Linked DNA regions of Homo sapiens. The protein of the gene in region 3 interacts with the protein of the main gene of each other region in a biochemical or structural test. Each region holds a gene or a part of one and is shown on either strand. Other genes may lie near its edges. The genes, in order: NTRK1, SHC3 and ARHGAP32.

Region 1 (4,486 bases), on a different chromosome or scaffold from region 3:
AGAAGAGTAACAGAGGGGCAGGAACAAGGGGTCCTGCCTCCATCAATCCTTAGTCCAGCTCCGTCCCTTTCCTGCCCCCCATCACCCCACACACACACACACATGTTTCTCTCTCATCTGCTGCTGCGTGCTTGCTCTGTCCCGGACACACCAATACAAGGAAGACACCCCATCAACGCTCCCATCCTACCAGTACATCTAACTTCCACCCCTTCCACTATAGCCCAGCCTTCCTGAACATGAACTACAAAGATTGACAGTTAGGCTCTCAAGGTCTAGGAAGTTTGACCAGAGGCTGCCTTACCAGCAGGTGAGCCAGGTGACCATGGGAATGGGATCCAAACTATAGTCAAAGGTGAGAGTGACAGGTCCATGGAGTAGGGGTAGGCAGCTGAGGGGAACCTGAGTGGGGGAAGATCCCAGAGAGCTGTCCCCCTACCTGAATCCCAATGCCTCCCTCCTGGAACGACGTCATCCCAATAACTGGCAAGAGACACAGCCAAGGGATAATAAATATAATTGCTATGACGGGACCTTGCCTAGAGAAGCAGGAACATCCTCTACTCCCAGCCCCCACCTGTCCCTTCCCACATGCTGAGGGTGAATTAGATACTTTGAGATCACCCTGGGGCTGCTGGGAGCTATGGGGGATGCTGAGGGCAGGCCCCAGTATTCCGGCTAACCACTCCCAGCCCCTGGGCCGGCCCCCTAGCCCAGGACATCCAGGTAGACAGGAGGTGCCTGGGCCAGGGCTTGCAGCCGGGCGTGCACATCCTTGATGCTGTGGCGTTGCTGGGGCTCCCGCTGCCAGCAGCCCCGCATGATGGCGTAGACCTCTGGTGGGCAGGCACGTGGCCGCTCCAACTCACGTCCCTGCGTGATGCAGTCGATTGCCTGGGGCCACCGGAGAGACAGAGGAGAAAGCCCACTAGGCTGGGGGCAAGAGAGTGAGGCCAGTCCCAGTGCCCTCACTGAGGCTCCCAAGGCAGCTCACACTACTCGTCTGGGCTTCTTAGCTGCTAATAACCCGAATGGACACAGTCAACCCCAGGATTCATTTCTGCTCTGACACTGAGAAGTGAGAAGGATTAAGGCTCGACTATGGGAAGCTTGGGCTGGGGTAGGATTGCTTCCAGAAAACTGGGATCAGATCCTAAGAAGACTTGCCAGGTGGGTTGAGGAAGGCGAGGGGCTGAGGTATTTATCAATCCATCAGCTTAGTGTTGGGGGCTGAAAGGAGGAGGAGAAGGGCCCTCTGACTCTCAGCTCCAGAGAGAGAAAAGAAAATAGAGCAGAACTGCAGTTAAAGGGCGTGAAAAATAGCTGGCTTTCATTTTAAAGAAGAGGGCAATCCTTACTTCTCCCTTCTAGGGATACCACTCTGTGGGACTGACTAGCTCTCCCAAAAAGAAACTGCAGCAAGAAAGATCAAAGTTAGACTCTAGGAAGAACTGCTAAAGCAGCCAAGGAATCCAAAGGAGAAAGGGTGGCAGGGAGTGATTGGAGAAGGGGCCTGGAGCCTCTTTTCCCCTTCTTCCCCCCTCCCTATTAGAGGACTTGGGTTATGGGCGGCACTAATTCCATTTCTTCTCTCAGTGCTTGAGAAAATTAAAATCTATAACCCTCTCCCCCACCCCACCAGCCTCCGGGGAGCAGACTGCATTAGGAGGAGAAATGGAAACTGACAGCTGCGAGCCAAGCAGGGGGTGGGGGCAGCTGCTCTGGGAGACAGAACACCTGGGGCCTGCTCTGGCTGTGGCCAGCTAGGAGGGCAGGGGGAGGGGGTAGGACTGTCCTTCTGACAGTCTAACCTCCAGCCGTCCTGCTGCAGTGTTGGGCCTTCTTGTGCTGGGTTCCTCTTCCCGTGCTGGTCCCTTCCACTCTGATAATTCCTGCTTAGGTCTATAAAATGCAGCTAGGGATGGGGGTCTGGGCTCCTTGTACAAAGCACTTTGAGGTTCCCCCAGGGGCCAACTGGGCCTGGGCTTAGGACAGTAGGTGAAGGCAAGAATAAGGGAGGAAGAGAAGAAAAGGGCCACAGTGGAGGGGACACAGTGTGGGCACGGCGCTGGAAAGGGCCCCCCAACAGGCTGTGGCAGAGGGGCAGAAGGGGAACCGAGTTCCCTGAAAAAGGAACCTGAAGGGGCATGGGACGGGGAGGCCAGCAAGGGGTGACCATGGGCCGGGGCTGACCTCCGTGTTGGAGAGCTGGTACCAGGGCTGCTTGCCGTAGGTGAAGATCTCCCAGAGCACCACGCCGAAGCTCCACACGTCGCTCTCGGTGGTGAACTTACGGTACAGGATGCTCTCGGGCGGCATCCAGCGAATGGGCAGCATGGTGCGGCCTCCCACCTGCCACGGGCGGACACTGCATCAATTCCAGGGGCGCCTGGGACAGCCCGTCAAGGCACAGCCTACCCCAGCCCCATCATTAAAAATAAATACACAAGCTCGGTGGTTCACGCCTGTAATCCCAGCACTTTGGGAGGCCGAGGTGGGCAATCACGAGGTCAGGAGATCGAGACCATCCTGGCCAACATGGTGAAACCCCATCTCTACTAAAAATACAAAAATTAGTTGGGCGTGATGGCGTGTGGCCTGTAATCCCAGCTACTCGGGAGGCTGAAGCAGGAGAATCGCTTGAACCAGGGAGTCAGAGGTTGCAGTGAGCCGAGATCGTGCCACTGCACTCCAGCCTAGCAACAGAGTGAGACGCCGTCTCAAAAAAATAAATTAAATAAATAAATAAACAAACAGTGGTGGCTCTCAGGTCTAAGAGGCAAAAACCGAAGGTGCTGTTTCCATCTGGGATAGCGAAGGAGACAGAGCCCCCTCCACCAGGAGCCGAGGAGGTAGGTTGAAAACCAGAGCCAGTGAATCTCAGACCCATGCAGCCATCCTAGCAAGGGCAGGCTCTCAGTGGTCTTGGGATCCAGGGTGTCTACAGTTTGGATGCAGGGGAAGGCGTTGGGGACAAAGGACCCTTACACGGTAATAGTCGGTGCTGTAGATATCCCTGCTCATGCCAAAATCACCAATCTTGACCACCAGTCCCTGGCCCACTAGACAGTTGCGTGTGGCCAGGTCCCGGTGCACAAAATGCAGACCCGCCAGGTACACCATCCCCGCAGCGACCTGGCTAGCCACGGCCAGCAGCTGCCCCAGACCCAGGGGGCCTGGAGCCACATCCTCCCCACCAGCCAGCAGCTTGGCATCAGGTCCATGGGATCTGTGAACAAGAAAAGGAGAGGGGATAGGCTGGGAGGATAGAACTCCCAGGAGCCTGAGGAAGGCGATCCCCAGCAGCCGCGTGTGATGGGAGAGGAGACTGGGGACCTGGAAGTGGAGGATTGAGAGAACAGTAGAGGCAGCTGTCCAGAGGGGTGGGATGGAGGAGCGGAACAGGTGTGCCCACCTCCAGGGCTCCCACCAGAGACAGCCCATGGTTCCCACATCCATGCCTTCCTCTCTGGCAGCTCCTTGAACTCCAGATGCCCACTGGCCCCTACATCCCTTGCCATAGGCATGTCAGACTCAGCCCTTGCCAATTGGAGCTCGGTGTCTTTCCCCAAGCCTGCCCCTGCCTCAGGGAAGGGACCCTTCCCACCCAGGCAGACCCTGAAACCAGGGAGTCCTTGATTGTCCTGTCTCTCTCCCCTCTGCCCTCAGTGTCCAGCCATTCCTACGGGGTCTTCCTTCCTTTCGAAGGTGTCCAGGATGCCCGCCTTCTCCCCAGAGCGAGCACTCGGGTCAGTCCTAGTCACTCATCCATATTCCCCAATGTTCCTTCTCCTGAACCTTTGCCTGAACTGATCACTTTGCCAAAAATGCCCTTTCCTACTAGCCAATCTTCTCCTCATTTGTTTAGTTGAGGCATTTGTTAAACATTTCCAGTGTGCCAAGCACTGGGGCTACAGTGCAGAGTATGATGCAGATAAGCAGGTCATGGCAGTGCAGTGTGAGGGGCACCTGGCAGGCACCACGGGTGGGAATGGAAAAAGCCAGGGAAGGCTTCCTAGAGGAAGGGACACCTAAATTGAGACTCAAGTCCTGAAGCCATTCGAAGGGAGCTGAGGCAGGGAGGGGTAGAGTTTGTGTGTCTGTCTCCATCTTTCTATGGAGGGAGGGAGGCCCAATGCCCCAGGCAGAGGGAACTGGAAGTACAAAGGCCTGGAGGGGAGAAGGAACAGATGGTCCCTCCTAGGGGAAGTCTTCCAGACTCATCTCTGAGCATTAATGATTCCCTCCATTGATTCCCCCAGTGTTCCATCCAGCAGTTAGAGCCTCGTCTCCCACAGCCTGGGCCCCAGATGCTGGTATCTCCCTAGCCTGTGTCCCCAAGACCAGCACTGAGCCTATGCCATGTCTGGGAGCAAAGAGATAGGCTCCTCCCTGGCCTTCTTGGGCTCCTCTGTGCCTATCCTCCTCCACACTCAACCTTGGGTCTGGCCTCGCCTCCTGCTCCACACCCTGCATGGGCTCCCTC
Region 2 (8,192 bases), on a different chromosome or scaffold from region 3:
CATCATGGACAAGAACGCAGCACTTCAGAATGGGATCTTCTGCAACTGATCGTCTCCATGCGCCCTGCTCTGCGGCTGTGTTCTTATTTATTGCATGCGTCGCTTCCACAGGGGCCCCTCAAGAGCTGTGACTCGGGAGAGCTACCTTACTTTGACCAACAGCCTGCCCAGTGTGGATGTCTCTTACAGAGGGGGCCCAAGGAATCACCACCCCGCTTCAGTGTAAACAACGTGCCTTGTCCACTTTGGGCTCCAGAGTCTTTCAGATGTACTAAGCTGCTGACATCATCCACTGCCTTCTGCTGCATCCTAGACACCCTCCCTGTTGTTCACAGAGAGGGAAGGTCGTGGGCCACACAATGCTGTGTGACCCTCTCCGTGTGCCTCTGAATGGTGTTTTGATGATTTTACACTACATTTCCTGTGCGTAGAATGGATGCTTGTATATTCGTACATCTCTATGTTACACAGAATTTGTGTTGCAGGTGTTTGCCATGTGGTACCTACATAGAATCTCCATACAACACACAGGTAACAGGTTATACAAGTGGATTCAGACTGAACCCCCAGTACAAGGACATTGTTTTGAACTAGGTGGACATGCCATCCCTGGTCTCCTTAGACTGACATGATTCTCATGTTAACCAAGTTTTAAAAGTTCAAATTCCCCAAAAAGGCTTGTCCAAGGCTGGCCCCAGATGTGTGGGTCTGACCCACACCAGCCCTGTGTCCTGTCCTTTCAGTCATTTGTCCCTGCGTAATTTTAATCGTATTCCAAAGCCCAATTATGTGATGGTTTTCAGGTTTCTGCAAATTACAGAAGAGCCAGCCAAGATCACCCAGGAGCTTGTGCCCCCAGATGGGCCAAAGAAAGAGCCTATGAAGGAGAAGCAGAAGCAGACGGCTGGCCTGGCTCACCTTCCCACGCCAGTGGGGCAGGGGTCTGCTTCAGGAAATGGAAGCTGTCCAGGAAATGAGCAGAGATTCACAAGACAGCACTTTGATTCTATGTTGAGTTTGTTTCTATATTAGAAAAGCAGCAAGTCAGTAATCCCCCGTGGCATCACAGCTAAGTAGCTGTGGCCACCGGCAGTTTCACAGCATCCTGAAAGCTGGCACTGATCGTGACTATCAGTGAAAGAAGTTTAATTTTCAGGTTAGAAAATGTGATCTGGCAGTTTATGCATTCTTCAGAGTAATGTAATAATACCTATGTGATGCTGTAATTTTACTTTTCAACATAAGTTGAACCCGTAGCAGTCTGTTTACCTTGTAAAGGGATTACTTAGAAGACATTTTTGTACATGCTCTTCCCCAAGGATTGTACGTATTATACAAATAGATGGAAAGAAAAGTGAACACGTTTGTAGAACTTTCATAAGCACACAGTTGCTGTGTTGAGTTCTCTTTAAAAACAAGGACAAAACCAACCAGCGTTCAAAGGAACCTCCCATCAGAGTCCCCTAAAGTATTTTAGGTTCAGTGAGCATTTGCCTGAATAAAACCTAAAAGAGTAGTCTTAACACATTACTAACTTTTTCTAAGAGAAATTGATTCCTGTTTTGTCATCTGATGCAATTTGCTCTTATAAAGAGACATTTTCATAGGTTCAGAGTAACTCACCTCCATGGGCTGACCAAAGGCTTTTCTAATTTTTGTTACTGATGAGATGAAACCTATTTGTAAGGAGATCTTCCCCAGGAGCATTTCTGTTGCCTTCTTGACATCAATGAAAAGTAGCATATTCTCTTATGAAATAGCATGAGAAAACACAGGGCATTTCTAGGACAGTAAAACGTTAAAGTACTGGATTAAGAAAACAACAACAGGCTGGGCGCAGTGGCTCACACCTGTAATCCCAGCACTTTGGGAGGCTGAGGCGGGTGGATCACCTGAGGTCAGGAGTTTGTGACCAGCCTGGCCAACATAGTGAAATCCTGTTTCTACTAAAAATACAAAAATTAGCTGGATGCGATAGCACGTGCCTGTAGTCCCAGCTACTCGGGAGGCTGAGGCTGGAGAGTTGCTCAAACCCGGGAGGCGGAGATTGCAGTGAGCCAAGATCGCACCGCTGCACTCCAGCCTGGGTGACAGAGCGACCCTCTGTCTCAAAAAATAATAATAATAATAAATAAAACAACAACAAAATGCATCAGAGAGCCAAAACATTCAGTATTGCATTTTCACATAGGTGATGAAATGACTTTGGAACTTTATCTGTGTTATAGTTATGAGTTGCTTTGGGAGACTTGGAGCTCTCTGTAGCTATTGTTCATAACACTTTGCTCCATAACCCTGATGTCCGCAGTATCTAAGTATCTCAGCCTTCATCCATTAACTCTACTAGGGAGCCCACAGCCACCATTTCCACTAGGAGGTATCAATATTTGTGGTATGACATAAGGCTCCCTTGAAATAACAAGACTTTTGAGCAATCTGAATTAAAAATACATCAAAAAAGTAATAGCGCTCATTTGCTAAATGCAAAAAATAATCACCTTTGATACCAATGTGCACCAATATGCCTAACTAGCTAGCCAGCTGGAGATAATTTACCAGGGAATGTTTCAAAGCCCTAACCTTGAAGTTTGGAAACAGGTGGTCTTCTATGCTGCAGAGAAACTATGCATTAGGTCTCTTTTCAATTAGAAACCTTTACTATTTCCAATGTATGTTTGTTAAAAATAATAATAATAAAACCAAAAGCCTTTGTGGAAACCCACTCTTCGTAGTCCATGTGATGGGATTGTTTTATCGTTTTCACCGGGTGCCCTCCCCACTGCAGGGGTGCGCACTGTTGTTGCAGGCTTGCTACCCACCTGTGTTTCTTAGCATTTCAGGAATTAAACCACATTCAGAACCCCAAATAACCTTTCCCCTTTCTTCTTACCCACTATCATAGGTGGTATTTTAATGAAGCGTCTGTGCCTTGGGTGCTATTTACACCAATTTTGGTAGGTCATACTATTTTGAGAATGGTCTTTTGATAGGGAGAAATTTCTAAGACCCATGGTAATAAAAGTGCAGCTCAAAGACATGGGACCTCTTGTCCTGCCCCATTTGCTGTTGTTTATGCAGCAGGAGAGAATAGGTCAGAACCAACCTTTGCACACTAGCTTTCTCCCACACAAACGGTCCATTTTAGCCTCTCTGTCCCACTTGCTATGTAAAGAGGAGGCCAGTGCTCGGCATAACTGTTCTGGTAGCGATGCTTGTTACAACTCATGATGAAATGTCCCAACGCAAGTGAGGACGCAGCTGCCCGCCCCAGAGCTAGAAGGTAAGGTGAGTTCTCTAGGAGTACATCTGCCCGGATGCATTTTCATTCCGCAGCCTTGATGAATGGGACGAGGCTTTGTTGTGACTGTTTTTTAAGCAGTCCCCCAGGGAATCACTGAAAATACCTACTTCTTAGAGAAAAGTTTCAAGCTCCCCTCCTCTCTTTTGTGAGGCAATACAAAATCCATCATCCAAATGAAAGATACTTTTCACAACAGCCTTTATTGCCTGCAGACTTACATGTATAGTCCTTTAAACAATTAACTGTTTAGAAAATGGTTGTTTCTCTCAACCCTTGAGCCAGTTATTCCACGCTGGTAAGACCCTTTCACAGAAATGTAACAAGGTGCATTTTATAGAAAACATCTAATTAAATCACCAGTTTCATGCTTTTAAGTTGTATCTACAAGTGCAAAACTGCAACACCCAAATGTTTTTAGTATCTAAGTCAGATATCCAAAAGTTAGCTCCATAATCAGAAATGCGCACACCACTGTTCTGATAATAAAGGCACATTTTCCAATAACCAATTATAACAAGAAGTGCAGCATTACCTAAATTGGGTGTGTCATCTTCCCCTCCTGGGTCACAGGATGACACCTGGGGATGCGATGCCGTGCCTGCACTTGGCGATCCCAGGAGCACAGAAATGCACCAGACAGATCATGAAGGGCTAATGCTTGGAAACCACACCATTTCCTGACAGAGTGAAGGAATCCCTGTGGATTTATCAAAAGGGAGGAGGGAATTTAAGCTAATTCTCTTCACCTGCTGTATTCTCAAATCTCCAAAACACCAGATAACTTAGGTTTTTTCATTTGTCATAGAACAAAGATTAGAGAACTTGAAATTCGTTTTGCATTTCCACTCCTCAGGGATGTCAAAAAAGCCAGTTCTGTTCCAGCACAAAGTAGAAAGTGGTGAATTGGCAATACGCCAAGACATAGACTGTTACAGTAATTCTTTTTGTTTCACAAAAGTTAATGGAAACAAAACAACTTTCAGATAATATTCATTTGTCAGTATGTATAATTTGCCATCCAAATGCTTTTTAAAAAGTTATTATCTTATTATTACACATTAAATTTACATGGAGTTGTCTCCTAATCCTGGGATTTTAACACCAAATGTTTAATTCTGAATACAAAGAAACATTCACATACTTAATTTTACAATATTCTGGAACAAGTTATATTCAAAAGTCAAATGAACAGAGAACATTCCACTTGCAACCAACACATAGCTGTTAACAAAATTAACCCCATTAATATTTAAAGACGGATTTATCCATTAATGCCTGTTTTAATTGTCACTTGATTTTGATGGTTAGAAACTTTGGTTATGGTAAAAATGATCACATGAGTGGGAATTCATTACCTCAAAGCTCAGGACCACAGCTCCCCATGTGCATGTTTTTCTGTCTGCAGTATTTCAAGGTGAGACAACAAAATAGACACCTAAAATTGTATGAGATTTTATTCCTGGTGCTTTTTCAGCGAGAACCATTTTTCCAGACCTAGGGAAGGAGCCTGTGTGTTTTTGGCCTGAAGGATTCATCAATTCAGAGCATCTGTGACAGCCAGGAGGAGGAAAGAAGGGAGGCTGGGATCACCTCCCGCCCCTTCTAGCATCTCTACTGAGAGTGACAACTCCAGGCTGTCCACCCCCATCCTGAGCCTTCCACACTCTTCTCCGTGCCACTAACACTCAGTATCTGACGCCTGCAGTGCGAAGCCTCCAGAGTCCCCAGACTGACCTGGGCACTCCACCCTTGCTGGTTCTACTTTACTTGGACACACGGGTACCTTAAGGCTTGTCACACTCCAACACCTTTGTGTGTGTGTGTCTTTATTTCTTTCTAGGTTATAAACTCAGGCAGAGGCCTCATACATTCACTTCTCTATCCCACCATCCCAGTACAGGGCCAGCCACATATTAACTAATGCACAAATGAGGCCAAGAAACTGGCTAGAAATCCCAAGAAACTGTGCCAAGTATATGCAGCTGCACCTGGGAATACACGAAAGCATGACATCACGAGCACAGCCTCCTCCACCACACCTTCCCTTTCTCCTCCTTCCCTGCTGGCCTCAGACAGCTATGCATGGCTGCATGAAGGAAGATCTAAATCTGGACTTGTTTTATCCTCCCCTTCCCTTCTTCTCACCTTTATTCTGCCTCCACCTTCTTCTTTCTTTGTCTTCCCCCACTGGCTTCTCTGTCATTTCCCACAGTGGGTTCCCCCAATCCCTGTGGTCCTCATGTCCTGTTCTTGTTCTCTTTGTGCTGGATCTCACATCCTACAGCATCCAGGACCATCCTCCATGGCTGATGCCACAGCCTGCCAATTCCCAAATTCTTCACGTTTGTTTGACTTCCTACTTAGCTGTAAAACCAAAGCCCAGGGAGGAGTCCCAAGGTGCACAACACAGAGCCAATCTGCGTGTGTACAGAGATGCAGATCCGTTTTTAATCAATGTAAGTATATGCGTATATGTATATACATATGCAATTCACATTCACAAGTCCTGGTATAAAGTTGCAATTTTTCTGGCTGCTATAAAATGTGCCAGTTTTAAAACTGTGCATTTGTTGCTTGCAAACTTATAAATATGTATAAACCCCATTATAAATAAATTATGGCTGGCAGATGGCATTTAAGCTGCCAGCAATGGTTGCATGGAGTTATAAATGCTTATTAATTCTCCACTTTTAAATTCACAGCACGGACCCTGGGATCTGTGACATGAAGTGGTGTGAAAGCATAATTATAAATTAGAGGGGGGAAAGCCATCAATAAGAGACAGGTAAGGGCTGGAAACTCTCACTAGTGAGTGGTTCTCAAAGTCAAGACTTCAGAGCAGCTGCACCAGCATCACCTCGAGATTTTTTGAAATGCAAATTCCCGGGCCCCACTCCAGACCTAGGGAGTCAGGAACTTGGCGGGGCCAGGGGGGTGGAAGGGCCTGCAATCTTTGTCTGAACCAGCTCACAGGGTGGTTCTGATGCCTGCCTTCCACTCGAAGTCTGCTTGTCACGAACGCCTGTCTCAGCTCAGGGACATCCCCGGCTTAGGAAGTATGCTCAGGTGTGTGCAGGGCCAGTCAGAAATTGTTTCCAGAAACAGCCTTTCATAAGTGATAGACTTGGTGAATAAATACCCCAGCTGTCTCCCCGCCTTGCTGGGTGAACTCTGGGGTGTCAGCTCTGTCTCTCGGGGTTCCCCGGTGGGATTCAGCTCCAGTTGTGCACATGACGGTAACTTACTTGATAATGCACGCCTTCCCCGTCAGCTTCCTTCTCTCCCTACTTCCGGGATCTTCACTCAAATAAACTACATAACCTCAAGTCCTCTCTCAGGGTCTCCTTCTGGAGGAACCCCAACTAAGAGGAAGTAGAAACACTGTCTCTCCCATCTGAATGACTCAGGCTTTTATGCATTTTGAGATGGAGCACAGATGTAGAACCCCTGGAGGGAAGCACTGCTTGCCATTTCCGTGGGGCAGGGGGCTAGCTTTACGTGCAGGCCCAGGACTGTGAGTCCTGTGCTCTTTTCTAAGTTGATCCCCAGGCCCTTGCATGGCTCCAGTTTCCTCTTCTGAAAAGCAGGGCCCCCTACTGGGCTGTCTTACCAAGCTCCCTTCCCTGTGATCCTGTGTGGAGCTGACAGTTCTAGGTTGGCACTATGTCCAGGAGTGGGTTTGTCCTCTTCATCTTTCTTAGAGCCAGCTTTGAAAGTTCCATGGGAGAACCTGAGTATTACTCTGAAACCCACTGCAAGGTCTGTCTGAGTCCTGCAATGACCTCTTTGCAATCTTTCCACAATCTTCCCACTCACTCCCAATCCTACTGTCACCGTCCACAGAAAGGGATTTATGGACAGCACACAAAGTTGGGCCAGCGAGAGAGAACCAATGGGCACGCTGGGAATGCACAATTTTAGAAAATCATTGCGCTTATATGTTTCATATATTTGTCAATCCCCAGCACGCCCTCAAGCTGGGAACATGTATAGCCCTGCAGTGTAGAGCACGCCAAGGCTCAGAGAAATCCAGCAACCCGCCTGAGTCCACGCCGTTCTGGGTGTGCCAGGGTGGAGGCTGGATGGAGGTATCTACTCGTGGCCCGCATTGCCTCTGCCCTGGAAAGGCCTATAGTCCGAGGCTTCTGCCCAGCTCAGCCCAACAGAAAAGAAATGTGTGACTGCCTTCAGGTAGCAGCCAGTTTGGAGGAAATGAGGACCCAGACGTCCATCTTCAAGCATTGCTTATAGAAAGAAGCTACCCAAGTGTCGGACGCTACTGAAAAGGAAAGCTTTATTTTGGGAGCTGGGGGCCACCTTCAGAATCCCAGCACCAGACATGGAGGTTGGGCTGGACACACATGTCCACTGTTCCCCTGGCACATGGGCCCTTTAGGGTCCACCCTTCCCTAGGCCTGTCCTTCCTTTTAAGTTAGGACTTTACCTACACACACGGCTTGTCATTTCCCGTCTTTATTAGAAATTACCCACAACTTCCTCCACCTCCAGGAGGCCCTAAAGAAGGCCATATATGGCCCAATCAGGCCTTTGTCCATTATCCCAACATCATAGATGGCCTGACAAAATAGCTGCTCGCTCATCAAGGCTGAGCGGACGCCCAGTCTTTGGGTGCTTCAAATATAAAAAACAGCAACAGTGGTGTCTTAAGCACAGGATTAAAGATTGAGTCATTTGACTGCGGTGTTTTTCACCTCCCCACCCGATTCTCCGGTTAGCTACTCAGAGGCAGCCTTGGAGGTCAAGAATCAAAGCTGACTTAAACCACAATGAGCACCCCCATGAGAGGCCCAGCCGGCCTCCGTGGGACAGAGATGTCATTTGAAGCACAGCTGATTCATTCGTGGGGTTAGGGGAGGTGGGTGGGGGTCTC
Region 3 (12,644 bases):
ACATGACAGGCCCTTTCACCTTCTGCCGAGCACGGCTCTCTCTCCGGATGGACTGCATGCGGTATTTTTCCATGTCCTCAAGATCCCATGAGGTGTAGGTGTGCTTCACATCAGCAGCCGGAGGCATGCTGACTACATTATGGTCGTTGGGAGAGAAATAGCCAGTCACGTTGGCCCGGGGACGTGGAGCCAAACCAGCATAACTGTACAAGCTCTTTCCTTGCAGCCTAGGATTGTAGAAAGCAAAGTCTCGATTGGGAAGGCGGTGAAGGGGTCTCAACTGGACTGTGCCATAGGCATCCACATCACACAGGGCCCCATCTGGACTGTAATAGGAACTAGAAGAACTGGAATATGGGCTATACCTGTAGTGGACCCGGCCATTCTCAAAGTAAGGCTGAAGCTGAGTGACATGATAATCTGAGCGGGCCTGGGAGGACTGATATGGCTTATATTGGTACAGAGGTCTTGGGCAGTAGGCTGGCTCATCATCTGGGGGAACTTCTGTCCGTGAAATGGGAACAGAGCGAATCATGGAAGACGGCGGAGCATGGAGAGACTGCACTCTCCGGATGGTAGGGTACGGTGGAATGTCTTCGGGGTAACAGGTATTCCTGACAGAGGAGCTCAAAGAAGACACATACTCGACCCGGCTGCATGGCTTGGAGTGGTGTCCAGATGCGTTTCTTCCTGGGGCCACATATGTGTTATAACGAAGACCCATGGAGGCTGGTGGCTCTGACCTGGCACCATACACTTGGTGCTGCTCCAATTTATTGTGATGGGGAGGTACACTCTGGGGACGGTACTGGCAGTTTGGAGTCATATTGAAATGCAAACAGTTATCTGGACCAAAGGGTTCAGTGGTGACATCGGGCCTAGCAAAGGAGGAGTAAACTGTTTTCTGAGAAGCATGCTTAGGTTGTGGGACAGGAAGTGGTAAAGGCAATGCATCGTCCACAGAGGTGGATGAAGCAGTGACAAAGGAATGATAATTTGAACTGCTGGTGGCATCTGCACTGCTGGAGTGTATGGCAGCAATCATCTTACTCTCCATCATCCTGGTGGGGGGCAGTGGTGCAGGAAAGCCACAGGGATGCGCAGGGACAGACTCGGCGCGCAGGTGCAGCAGCGGGACCCGGGCACCGTCCCGCACTTTCTCAGGCAGGCCTGGCTGGACAGCTGTAGCCATGGGACACTGAGCAGCAGCAGCACCACTGTCACTGATGAAGGCAGACGCAGGGTCATCCATGGCTCGAGGTTCAGGTGGCCTCTCTGGAACTGGAACTACTCCTTGAACCTATTGAAAGATGATAATACTATGGGTCTATTTTTTGTTCCCTCTATGAATCAAGTACTATTAAATTTGTAACTCACAAATTAAGGCTGGTTGGGTAGCAGCTTGAACTTTCCCAAGCCATGTGGTTGCAATGAATCTGTACCCATTTCTAGGAAAAGAAGGCTTGTGCTGCTATTTTGTACAACACCCAGTATTATCTTTGGAGAACCATTCAAAGTTTTCTAATTTATGAGAGGTTTTAAATGCGAGATGAGGTTGCCTATGGCATAATTTTAATATACAAACCAAAAGAGAGGTTTAGTCAAGTAATGCTGTAGAGCTTAAAAATACATACCCGGTCTATTAGTCTAGCTCAGTCTCAACACAAAGGACATCTTGTTAAATTAAGAGTTAATTCTATCATCTGGGGAGACTTTTGAAATTCACAGTTGTACACAGTTAGCAGTTTTAGGGCTTCAAACATAGGGAAAGGCAATATTCAAATCAGAAGCTACTGCCTCTCTCCTACCTTTGATTCCACCTTAGTCTGGCCAAAGATAATCCTCATACTGAAAACATGCTATCCTTGAGAAGCAGTAAACACAGCATCCTCCACTAAGGTCTAAAATCTTAAGTCCTATTAATAGTTCAAGGTGACCATATAGAAGAAAAACAACCTGTGGCACTTTCTTAAAATATGAGGAAATTCAGGAAGAAACCTTAGCATTCTGCATACTACATTCTCTCATTGAAACAGGCACCTGACTATGGGACAAACTGCTGGTGAATGCTAGGAAAGTAACAAAAAATCCCAAGGCACTATAATCTCTTATACTTCCAAAAAGTCTGCAAGGCAGACAGTCTTACGAATGTTTTGAGAATGAAGTATTTTCATTGTGTAACTGTGAATAATTGGCAGAGGGTAGGTAAATGACTTGCCCAAAGTCACAATGAGTCAGTGATGGAGTTGGAAAAAAATAAGAAAAAGCAACCCACAACCGTAAAGCCCACTTTGTCTCATTTGATCCTGATCTCTTTGTGTTACTGGAATAAACTACCGAGACACTTTAGGAAGAAAAGGGAGCAGGTACAGTTAAGCTATAGTCATCTAGGAGCTACTCCTTTCCTGGGGAAAAGCCAGCATCAAGGTAATGGCAGACTCCAACCTCAAATGGGAACTATCTCATGGAAACCAGCCACAGGGCTTAAAAGTAATTGTTGTGTCTGACTCAAAGATAACAACACACCCTGCTGAAAAGTGACATACCTTTGGTAATAGTATATTTCATCTCACTGATATCTTCCCCTTCTTACCTTGTGGGAATTATTTAATCCTATATTGGTTGCTGCTTGTACCTGCCCCACAACTGGTGGCTGCTCTGCAGATCTCTGGGAAGGCGGAGGGGGAAGGGGACGATTAGTTCTGTGCGTGCGCTGAAGTGTGGCAGCAGCAAAATCAGCAGTGGTGGGTTGTTCAGCCACATCCCAGCTGGCTTCCTTGGTGCTCATTTGGGCTGTTGCTGGAGTAGTTGTCATGTAAGTCATGGTGGCTGTGCTGGTATTCTCTTCGGGGGACCCAGAAGGAGGGTAGATTTTATCGCTAGGTAAATTAGGAGGTGTGGGAGATTTGTCTGCAAATTCTAAAGGGTGATGGAGTTTATCCACACTTGCACCAAGATAAGAAGGAGGCTGATCTCCACTGTAGAAACGGGGTGGAGACTGGTCCTGATCCAAGAAGGAGACAGTTGGCATACTGTTCTTCCCAGACTGGTCTTCAGGGAAACTTACATGATCATCAGACTTCTCTGAGTCTAAGGGAACTGAAGTAATTCTGGCCTTTTCTGGGTCCCCAGATAAATATGCTTGATGTGGCTGATTCCCTGTTAAGTCTACTTGGTGATGTTGCTCCCCAGATTCAGTTGTGTTGGAATGGGTAGGATCCCCAGTAGCTGTTGTCTCTGGTAGAGGATGGTCACAGTTTCCTGGTGCATTATTCTGGAGGTGGAACTGCTCTGCTGGTCGATCGGTTTGGAAATAGGCCTTATCTAGAGCAACTGCAGAGTAAGAACTGGACAGATTATCTTCAGTTGTAGCCACCGCTATGTCTCCATAATTTGTATACCCAGCCTGAGAGGTCCCTGGTCTCTTCAATGACTGAGTTGAGGCTTGCTGTGCGGACTCAGCTAATGCTAGCGCCAACATTCGGGCAACATTTTTCGGAGGCGGTGGTGGTGGGATAAGAGAGACTGAACTGACAGGAACGGAATCCTGAGGGGGGTCATGGGTAACTGCTCCTAGTGGGAAATTGGGAAAAAAAATGAGAGTGAAAAGGTAGCTTACGTTATCCTAAATGGAAAGCCAAACACTCCCCATGTGATCATTAAAAAATAGGTGCCTTCCATATTTCAAAATGGCAATCCATGATCTTCTATCCCACATGCAAATGCTGTTGAAAACACATCTGGTTCAGAAGGAAAACTAAAACAAACAGTGTATAAAGACTGCAATCTCTTCTTGAATTGTTACAGAGATGGGGGGGAAAAAAAGCATGTCCCTCACCTGGCTCAGAAAAGATTGCTTAGAAAACAAGCTTCAAGTGCTTGTAGACTGTTATTATGAACAGTTTTTACATTTGATGGTGTAGCTGGCTTGTTAACTTGGAAGGCTACAATAAAGATATTTTATTAGAAGAGAAAAACAGAATCAAGAGCTACGCAGTTGTGCAAAAATTATCCACGAATTCTCACCGTCCAAAGAGATAAGGGGACTTTTGTGAAGATTTGAAGCAGGACCATTGGCCCTTTTGGGGAGTTTTGTTGGACTGCTTTTAATTTAGGGCTCTGAGCCATCAGCACCACCCAGAAAAGCATTCTCTTTGATTAAAGGCTAGCTGTGGACAAATTTCTCTCTTAAAAGGCACAGATGGCACACAGGATTGAAGATCCCTCTTAACTTAAAGAAAGAATGGAGGAAAACAAACGGTACCTGTCTGAGTCTGTCCAGAAGCTACAGCCTTACTCTGACTGCTTGAGACAGACTGATCCTCTTTCCCTGGCAATTCTACTTCTTCAGCAGCCACCTGGTCCAGGGGCTGGACTTCAGATTCATATGCTTCTTGGGCAACTGTCTCATTTGTTTTCATCTTTACTATCTGGGTGGGGGATCTATTTGTGGCATCCCTTTCTTCAACGCATTTGTCCCAGGTTGAAGATGATGCATTCTGAGCTGTGGTATTTGAGACTGTACCAATGACTTCTGACACCCGTGGTGGTAGGGTCACTGAAATTGGCTCAGATATGCTCATAGAAGGTGATTTGCTTAATTTCCGTCCTATCTTCGGAGAGAAAGCATAGACGACCTTTTCAGTAAAGGAGGATGGCTTAGATGATTTATCTTCAGTTGGGCTCAAGTCCAGGGTAAAGAATGGACTCAGTTTCTCCTGAAGAGGAGAGACAGGTTCAGAGCTTGCTGTGCTTCCTGGAGTCTGACATTGGCTACTACCTGTTTCTGCATCCTTTTTATTGGCACTTGGTTTATCCTTGGAGTATCCTGGTGAATCTAAAAAGGAAGCACCACTCTCCAGACATTCTGATTCGGCCTTAGGAGGACTACATTGAAATGACATTGGATCAAAATCCAGGCTGGCTACTCCAATGTCTGGTGGGCTCAAGTCAACATCCTCAGCTGAATGAGGAGACATAAGGGCTGGGATATGAAGCAGCCCTCCTTCCTCCTCACTCTCATTGTCATGAGGCAGATTATCATAGGAGTTACAGCGGTTCCCCAGCATTTCTCCATTAAAAGAGGCAGACAGTGCATCACTGGAAGATCTGGGTCTTCTGGGTCGGAAGAGCTTAGAATCACCTGGAAAAAATGAATAACAGTGTCAAAGTAAGAACATCGTAGATACAGAATGCTGTGGTAAGTCACCTACTCAGCACAGCAGTAACTTACTATCTAGGTGAAGGAAGTGTTACTTCTCATTTTCTTTCTGAAAATTCTTTCAGTGCACACAGATCATTTACACTTGAGATAACAGAACTCCAAAACCAAATGCTAAATAGCAAACATGTGATAGAATCAGAGGGCGAATGCAGTATTTCATGGTCTGGAGAGGAAAAGAACTCAGAATGCTTGGATTCTATTACTAATCCAACACTGATTCTTGGTGTGACTTTGGGCAAGTTTTTCATTTCTTTGTGTCTTATTTTATCACTGGCCTCATATGACTTATGAGGTGGAATTAATCACTTTGAGTGGCATTTTGAATCTATAATAGCAAAATGGATGTTTTTTTTGTGGGGAAACATCCTTACAATATTCAAATTTCTAAATAAATTGAACTTCTCAATTAAAAAATCTTCATAATCCCATAAAGTATTTACATATATTTAGTAAAAAATTCCTTTCAGATACTAAACAAGAACTTCATTTTTTTCTTTAAGAATAGGTTTTAAGTTTCCCAAGCAGTCTTCAAGAGTGGCAGAGAGTATTACATAATTTTACGATGTTGCTAAATATCCAACTGGTAAAAAAGAAACTCTCTATTCTATTAGGATTATTTTAATTGCCATAGTTAAAAAGTAATTTAAAGAGGCAGAAACTATCTTAATAAATATAAATATATTGGCCGGTCACAGCGGTTCATGCCTGTGATCCCAGCACTTTGGGAAGCTGAGGTGGGCAGATCACCTGAGGTCAGGAGTTCGAGACTAGCCTGGCCTAAGTGGCAAAACCCCGTATCTACTAAAAATATAAAAACTGCTTAATTATACACTTTATAAAATTATGCTCCCGGGCATGGTGGCGCATGCCTGTAGTCCCAGCTATTTGGGAGGCTGAGGCAAGATAATCACTTAAACCGGGAGTTAGAGGTTGCAGTGATCCAAGATTGCGCCACTGTACTCCAAACTGGGCAACAAAGCGAGACTCTGTCTAACATATATATATATATATATATATATTCACAAATGTATTGATCACCCATAAAATTAATTCCTTACAAATATCTTCTGCTTAACACTAGTATCCACCTAGCTTGCTGCATTGTTTTGTAGGTTATCTTGACTAGTTTAATTGAAAATCTTGGAAAACTCTTATGCTCCCATTGTAAAATCTAAAGGAAACAGTAATAACACAAGTTTTCACTAGATATTAATAAATATAAATAGTTAACTTGAAATATTTTGGCTACTTTTATGTAAACTGAATAGCAGTCATGCCAAAAATGAAAAGATTAAAGACTGCTTCCATGTGAAAGCATCAATGAATTTTAATCTGAATAATACTAAATAGACACTAGTATTCCTAGGAAATGAGTTAATAGCCTATTTATTAAGCACAGATATATAAAAATATACTCAATTGCAGTATTCCTTTATGCAATATATTATAGAATAAAATGACTGATGCTTTTAGTCTTACCATCAACTGCATGGAGAGATGTAAGAGACTCCTCACTTTTAGCTGAACGGAGGGTTCCTTCTGCCCTGCCACCTGAAGAATAAAAAACACATAGTGTGAAGATTTCTTATTTGTTACATATGTGGTTAATGGGATCGGTGTTTTTCTTGATACATTTAAACTTTTGAGAGTGATTAGCTGTACATTTTGACAGCAATTTAGTACTCTATTACATAATGTGTTATACTGCACATTTTGACAGCAATTTAGTACTCTATTATATAATGTGTTATACTGTTCTCAAATGGTTTCCCGTGTGAAAAATCTCTTTTCTAAAGGATTATGAATTTGAGCAGAGAGATTAACTAAGATGCTTCTTTCTTTTACATTTCCTAAAGACCAATATGATATCTTGAATGACATCATACTGGATTTAGAGTGGGCCCTACACCCAATGACTGGTGTCCTCGTAAGAAAACACAGAGATGGCCATGTGGAGATGGAGGCAAAGATTGGAGGGATGCTGCCACACATCAAGGAATGCCAGCAGCCACCAGGAGCTTGGAAAGGCAAGGAAGGATTTTTCCCTGGAGCCTCTGGAGCAAGCACAGCCCTGCTGGTACCTTGACTTCAGACTTTGAGCTTCTAGAACCATGAGGGAAAAAAATTCTGTTGTTTTTTACCACTTGACTTGTGGTAATTTGTTATGGGAACTCTGGGATACTAACACAGGTAACTTTACGTACATATGTGAATCTTATTCGCTAAATATCTTCATCCTCTTTAACCCCTTGGCAGCACTACGAACACTTTCTTTTTAACCCCCTCCTCCCCTGCTGAGGATAGCATGCATCTCTTTTTTTCTCTGCCTACCTTTGTAATCATTTCTTCTTACTCTCCTCTCATGACAATTCTTCCTTTCCCACCTTTAAACATTGCTTCTCTCCAGCATTCAGCCCTCAGCTGGCTTCTTTTCACTCTGCTCCCATCTCCTGAAATACCATTCTTAGTCTCCTGTCAGTTAGGTGAATCCCTACTTCTCCTTGAAAACCCATATCAAAGGTTGTTATTTCCTAACCACTAGTCCCTCCTCTACAAGAGTTGACAATTCCTACCACAACTGTCTCATGTAACTATTTCTTTTATTTTTTAAGAGACTATGTCTTGCTTTGTCATCCAGGCTGGAGTGCAGTGGCACAACCATAGCTCACTGCAGCCTCAACCTCCTGGGCTCAAGTAATCCTCCTGCTTCAGCCTCCGGAGTAGCTAAGCCTAGAGGTATGTGCCACCAAGCCTCGCTTATTTGCAATTTATTATTATTATTATTATTATTATTATTATTATTATTATTATTTTGTAGATGCAGGGCCTCACTTTGTTGCCCAGGCTGGTCTTGAACTCCTGGCTTCAAGCGATCTTCCTGACTTGGCCTCCCAAAGTGTTGGGATTACAGGTGTAAGCCACTGTACCTAGCCTAAACCACTATTTCAATAACTATGATTCTGCACTAAAATTTACTTTCTCACACGTATGACTTCCCAATTTGACTTGGAAGGCAGAGGTACTACCCTAATTTTCTATCTGCAGAGCCTGCTATCAAAATAGCTAGCACATGCTCTACATGATTGCAAACTGAATGACGAATTAAATGAATTGAACATTATACTTCTAACATTATCTAAGAAGTACTACTATCCTTCCTAGATTCAGAAGTTGTTAATATCAATAGAATATGGCTTTTAAACTATTTTTAAAAGAGTACTTTTTCGACAGTAATAGATTTATTTGATCTAATAAGATACTCTATTAATGAGACATCTAATAAAAAATACCTTCTTTAGTTAAAAGAGTTATAAACTTGAAAGTTATGTTGAAACAGTTTTGAAATTTTTTAGATCTGTAAAAATACAGATCAATAAATTTAGATACCATAGCAGTATTTATTTACAACAATATACAAGGTATATGTGAATTTAATCACATTTACACTATATATAATCTATATAGTTTCCTTAAGAAAAGAAATTGCATACTTCTACATATTTATATATAATTTATGTTACTCTTCAATTTAGGAATAAAGAATCGGTGAGAGAAGACACTCTGTATGTGTGACACAACTGTGAACACGTTATGGAAGCAGATCATAACAATATGTGAAGAACGTGCCCAGAACAACCGAAGACCATCATGACAGCAGCAGAAGTGAGAATCTCCCAGGCACTCACCTTTCAGAGCCATGGCTTTCATCTCTGAAGGCTCACTCTCATTCCGCTGCAGCTTTCGTTTAGAAACAGATGATGATTTCCCCAAGTTGAAAAAGGAACGCCAGCTACCCACAGGAGACTTTTTCATCTTATTTTGAGGCCTCTTTCTATGAAAGAGAAAAAATAATCAACATTAAGATAGCCATGGGTCTGTCTTTTCTTACAGAAAAGAAATGAACACATGACAGAAAGAACCAAACAGGCTGGAGAAGCATAAGTGAAACAGTAAGCAAACATCCACCTTCCAGACAGCACACTCTACACAGTGCAGCCAAAGCAGAAAATGGATAGTAAACATGCAGATTTTAGTACTAGTAAATATTTTCACAAAGATCATTTTTATATATATCTTCATATTTGGATCCAACCTCACAAACTGAAAAATAAGTGAAAATAAGACGTATCTGGGAATAGGAAATATTAAGTGTCCAAAAATAACACAGAGTTAAAGAAAATGATTTTAGGTGTGAGTAGAGAATAAAGGCAAACAAAGAAGACAAGGATTAAGAATAATAACAAACATATACTGAATGCCAGGCACTGTGCTACCTGCCTTATATGTAATATCTCCTTTAAATCAGATACAACCACATGAGGTAAGTACTATTATTCTCATTTTGCAGCCAAGGAAATTATGACACTAAGAAGTTCAAATAACTTCTTTAACATTATAAAACTATTAAATGATGGAGTCAGAATTGGAACCCAGGCCAATCTACATCCCAGTATCTACTCTCTTAACTACTACTCCATAAATAAATCTTTGAGTAAATTATGGAACTAGAATATAAAATCAAGATGCTAAAGACAAACTCAGGATGACAAAGTAAGAGTATGTTCCAACTTTTTGCTGATAGAATGTTTTTAGTCACAGGAAGTGAAAGGAAGTTAGAGGAGTATACTAAAATACGGGAAGAACAAATTCTAAAGTTATATTAGTACTACCCAATCCAGAGAATCAAAATCCTTACATTCATGTGTAATAGCCAAAGGAGTAGCAGAGACATCAAAAATAACTTTTACATACATTAGTCTTCCTACTATAACCTAGTAAAGAAGATACAGAAACCATGTTATTATCATTTCTTTAGAGTAATAGAATTTCAGAGCTGGAAGGGACATTGAAAGAGTGAACTGCTGCAGTGGTTCTCAAGTCCTAGCAGACATCAGAATCACCTGGAAAGTTAGATGAATGACCAGTTGCTGGGTCCCACGCCCAGGGTTTCTGATTCAGCGGGTCTGGGGTGTGACTGGACGACTGCACAATGTGCACTTCTAGCAATTATCACCAGGTGATGCTGATGCTGTTGGCTGGGAGACCACACTATTAATCTCTTCTAACCTTAATGTGAAACCAATGTCAAACAAGTCACTGTCCATTCCTGACTTTCTGAACAAACTCTTCCAACACAGCTTATTTCTAAACAACTTTATAAACAACATAGTTCAGAGAGCAAAATCAACCCATATAGTGACAGTATATCCTTATTTTTCCAAACAATTTTCCCTATACCACTGATGTTCTTCTTTTATAAAATTACATGACATTGTAAAGCAAGAATCATTTGCATCATTCCCCATGAAGCGGTAAGTATCATCCATATTCGAATAAACAGGTTTCTCTGGGACTAGCCTAGAATTCAATAGAGTAATACTAAAATACAAAATTAAAAGCAAACTAAAAGAAAATAATAGGACATAGCTATGAAAATCATATCCCAAAATAGGATTTAACAAATTTTACCTTTCAAGTGGGAACTCAATTATGGTATGAAATTTCCCCTGAAGTGCAGCAGGTCCTTCTCCTACTTCGATATATTTATTTTCCGTCACAATTGGAGAATTGACCTGAGCTTGTGTTCGTGCCTGGGCCTCTTCCAATGTCAGCAGTTTGGTGGATGGAGAGGATACCAGGAGGGACTTGGGCCTTGATAGAGAAGCTTCAAAAAGAAAAGGAAGCTGATGAAGAGAGTCAACTACGTGAGTGTATTCAATTTGTTAGTATCTATCTCTCCATCTATCTACCTATCTGTTGTTTCAAATTTTCTTCAAGTATGTTAAATAGCAAAAACCATAGTGCTTTATATTAAATGAAAAACTGAAGGGGACATACCAGTGGCACACATACATACATATAAAACCCTTTAATAACTGTTTTCCTTTCTTAAAAGATATGAGAAAAGCTTTATATTAAATAAAAAACTGAAGGGGATACACCAGTGGCACACATACACACATATAAAACTCTTTAATAACTGTTTTCCTTTCTTAAAAGATATGAGGAAAGGTGATCAATCACTCAGATATTTTTAGTTTTGGAAGCAATTTTTCTTCTTCTGTTCCACTTTATACTTTAATACACATCAATAATGAACGACAAGTTTTTTAATGTGTCATGAACTTAGATCACAATAGGTCTCATATGTAGTATTCACTATATACACACAAAATAACTGTCAAATTGTGCATTTTGGTAAGCAGCCATACATTATTAGCTGCCTTATACCAGTGACACGTTTTTGTTGTTGCAATAAGAAATGCATGGTTTGCTACTCCTCTGGAAGCTGAGACACACCCTCCTGGTAGGAAGGGCCATCGGAGCCGTACCTGCCCCCTCTTGCATGGCCATGCTGATTCTGCCGCTGAACAGCACATCAACGTGATTCAGGATGAACTCAACAACCACAGACTGAATCCTCACTTCCATGAAAGCTGCTGTTCCACTGAAGCAGGCAGATTCTATCTGTTTTGATCTGTGAGGTAAACATTTTCATCACAGAGTTGTAAAGATAGCAGTCGTCAAGGGCCTCTTTTTTTAAACGTGTAAATCTCAGACAAACAGAGGAAGAAATCATACTTTTACTGTCCCTTAGCTAAGGCCCAGTTGCCTGTTTTAGGGAGATGCAAATAAAAAGAACAGATTTGTTTAATCTTTTAAAAGTTTCCTTAAAGAACACTGATGAATCAGCCTTTTATTTAGGATTAGTTCTACTAAAATTAATAAGTGAAATGCAAATTACCTTAACAGGTTTGGAGCCCAAACAATTGCTAGATTTTTTGCATGCATATTTGTGATGGAACAATAGTCAGCTAGAAGAGACAAGTGTCTCATCAGGAACTCCAGTGTTCTGGAAATAAAATACAACATATTAACAGAAAGAAACATGATGCAGCAGTATAGAACATAAAAGCCTGCTAATTAATTCCTAAGTTTGCAATAGCAAAATGAAGAAAGGGACCATACAAACCCAAGAGAACTTTTTTTTCCTGCTTAACAGGTTGAAATATTACTATTAGAAGTGAATCTTCCACCAAAGCTAGTTTCTGGAACAAATAATATTTTGAAGTTATGCCATTCTACTTGCAGCAGACATACTAACAGGAAAGGATTTCAACACTTCTATGAAAGAAAACAGTAATGTCTCAAAAGCCTTAAAACAGTTACAAGAAAAATTCCAATAGGCATCAAGGGGAGAATATTTGAGCAAAGGATATGCTTTTGAAATAAAGAGCCTAATTCAAATCCTCATATTCTGGTTTATCTTGACTACTTAAAATTTGCTTTACTTAAACAATTCCACATATATTGTGATTAAACAATAGGGAAGAGTACTTTTGAAAACAAGACATGATCACCTTAAATGTAAGTTAAACCAGGTAAGTGCCGTGTGTGTGTGTGTGTGTGTGTGTGTGTG

Evidence for each region.
Region 1: the proteins of ARHGAP32 (region 3) and NTRK1 form a complex in vitro, tested with the Homo sapiens proteins (one study listed by BioGRID).
Region 2: the proteins of ARHGAP32 (region 3) and SHC3 form a complex in vitro, tested with the Homo sapiens proteins (one study listed by BioGRID).

Annotation. Positions count from the first base shown.
Region 1 is NC_000001.11:156,877,865-156,882,350, reverse strand, and holds the end of NTRK1 (high affinity nerve growth factor receptor isoform 2 precursor), read right to left. Parts: intron 3,230-4,486; coding exon 2,989-3,229; intron 2,353-2,988; coding exon 2,194-2,352; intron 895-2,193; coding exon 709-894; 3' UTR 501-708; downstream 1-500. UniProt on the Homo sapiens protein: Receptor tyrosine kinase involved in the development and the maturation of the central and peripheral nervous systems through regulation of proliferation, differentiation and survival of sympathetic and nervous neurons.
Region 2 is NC_000009.12:89,002,289-89,010,480, forward strand, and holds the end of SHC3 (SHC-transforming protein 3), read right to left. Parts: 3' UTR 5,890-8,192; coding exon of another isoform or gene 5,230-5,889; 3' UTR 3,483-5,229; downstream 1-3,482. Other genes in the region: S1PR3 (sphingosine 1-phosphate receptor 3), read left to right, coding at 1-49; uncharacterized protein LOC124902206, read left to right, coding at 5,230-5,889. UniProt on the Homo sapiens protein: Signaling adapter that couples activated growth factor receptors to signaling pathway in neurons. Involved in the signal transduction pathways of neurotrophin-activated Trk receptors in cortical neurons.
Region 3 is NC_000011.10:128,969,860-128,982,503, forward strand, and holds part of ARHGAP32 (rho GTPase-activating protein 32), read right to left. Parts: intron 12,078-12,644; coding exon 11,970-12,077; intron 11,703-11,969; coding exon 11,557-11,702; intron 10,890-11,556; coding exon 10,694-10,889; intron 9,997-10,693; coding exon of another isoform or gene 9,990-9,996; exon of another isoform or gene 9,064-9,989; intron 9,057-9,063; coding exon 8,911-9,056; intron 6,776-8,910; coding exon 6,704-6,775; intron 5,144-6,703; coding exon 4,265-5,143; intron 3,574-4,264; coding exon 2,594-3,573; intron 1,301-2,593; coding exon 1-1,300. UniProt on the Homo sapiens protein: GTPase-activating protein (GAP) promoting GTP hydrolysis on RHOA, CDC42 and RAC1 small GTPases. May be involved in the differentiation of neuronal cells during the formation of neurite extensions.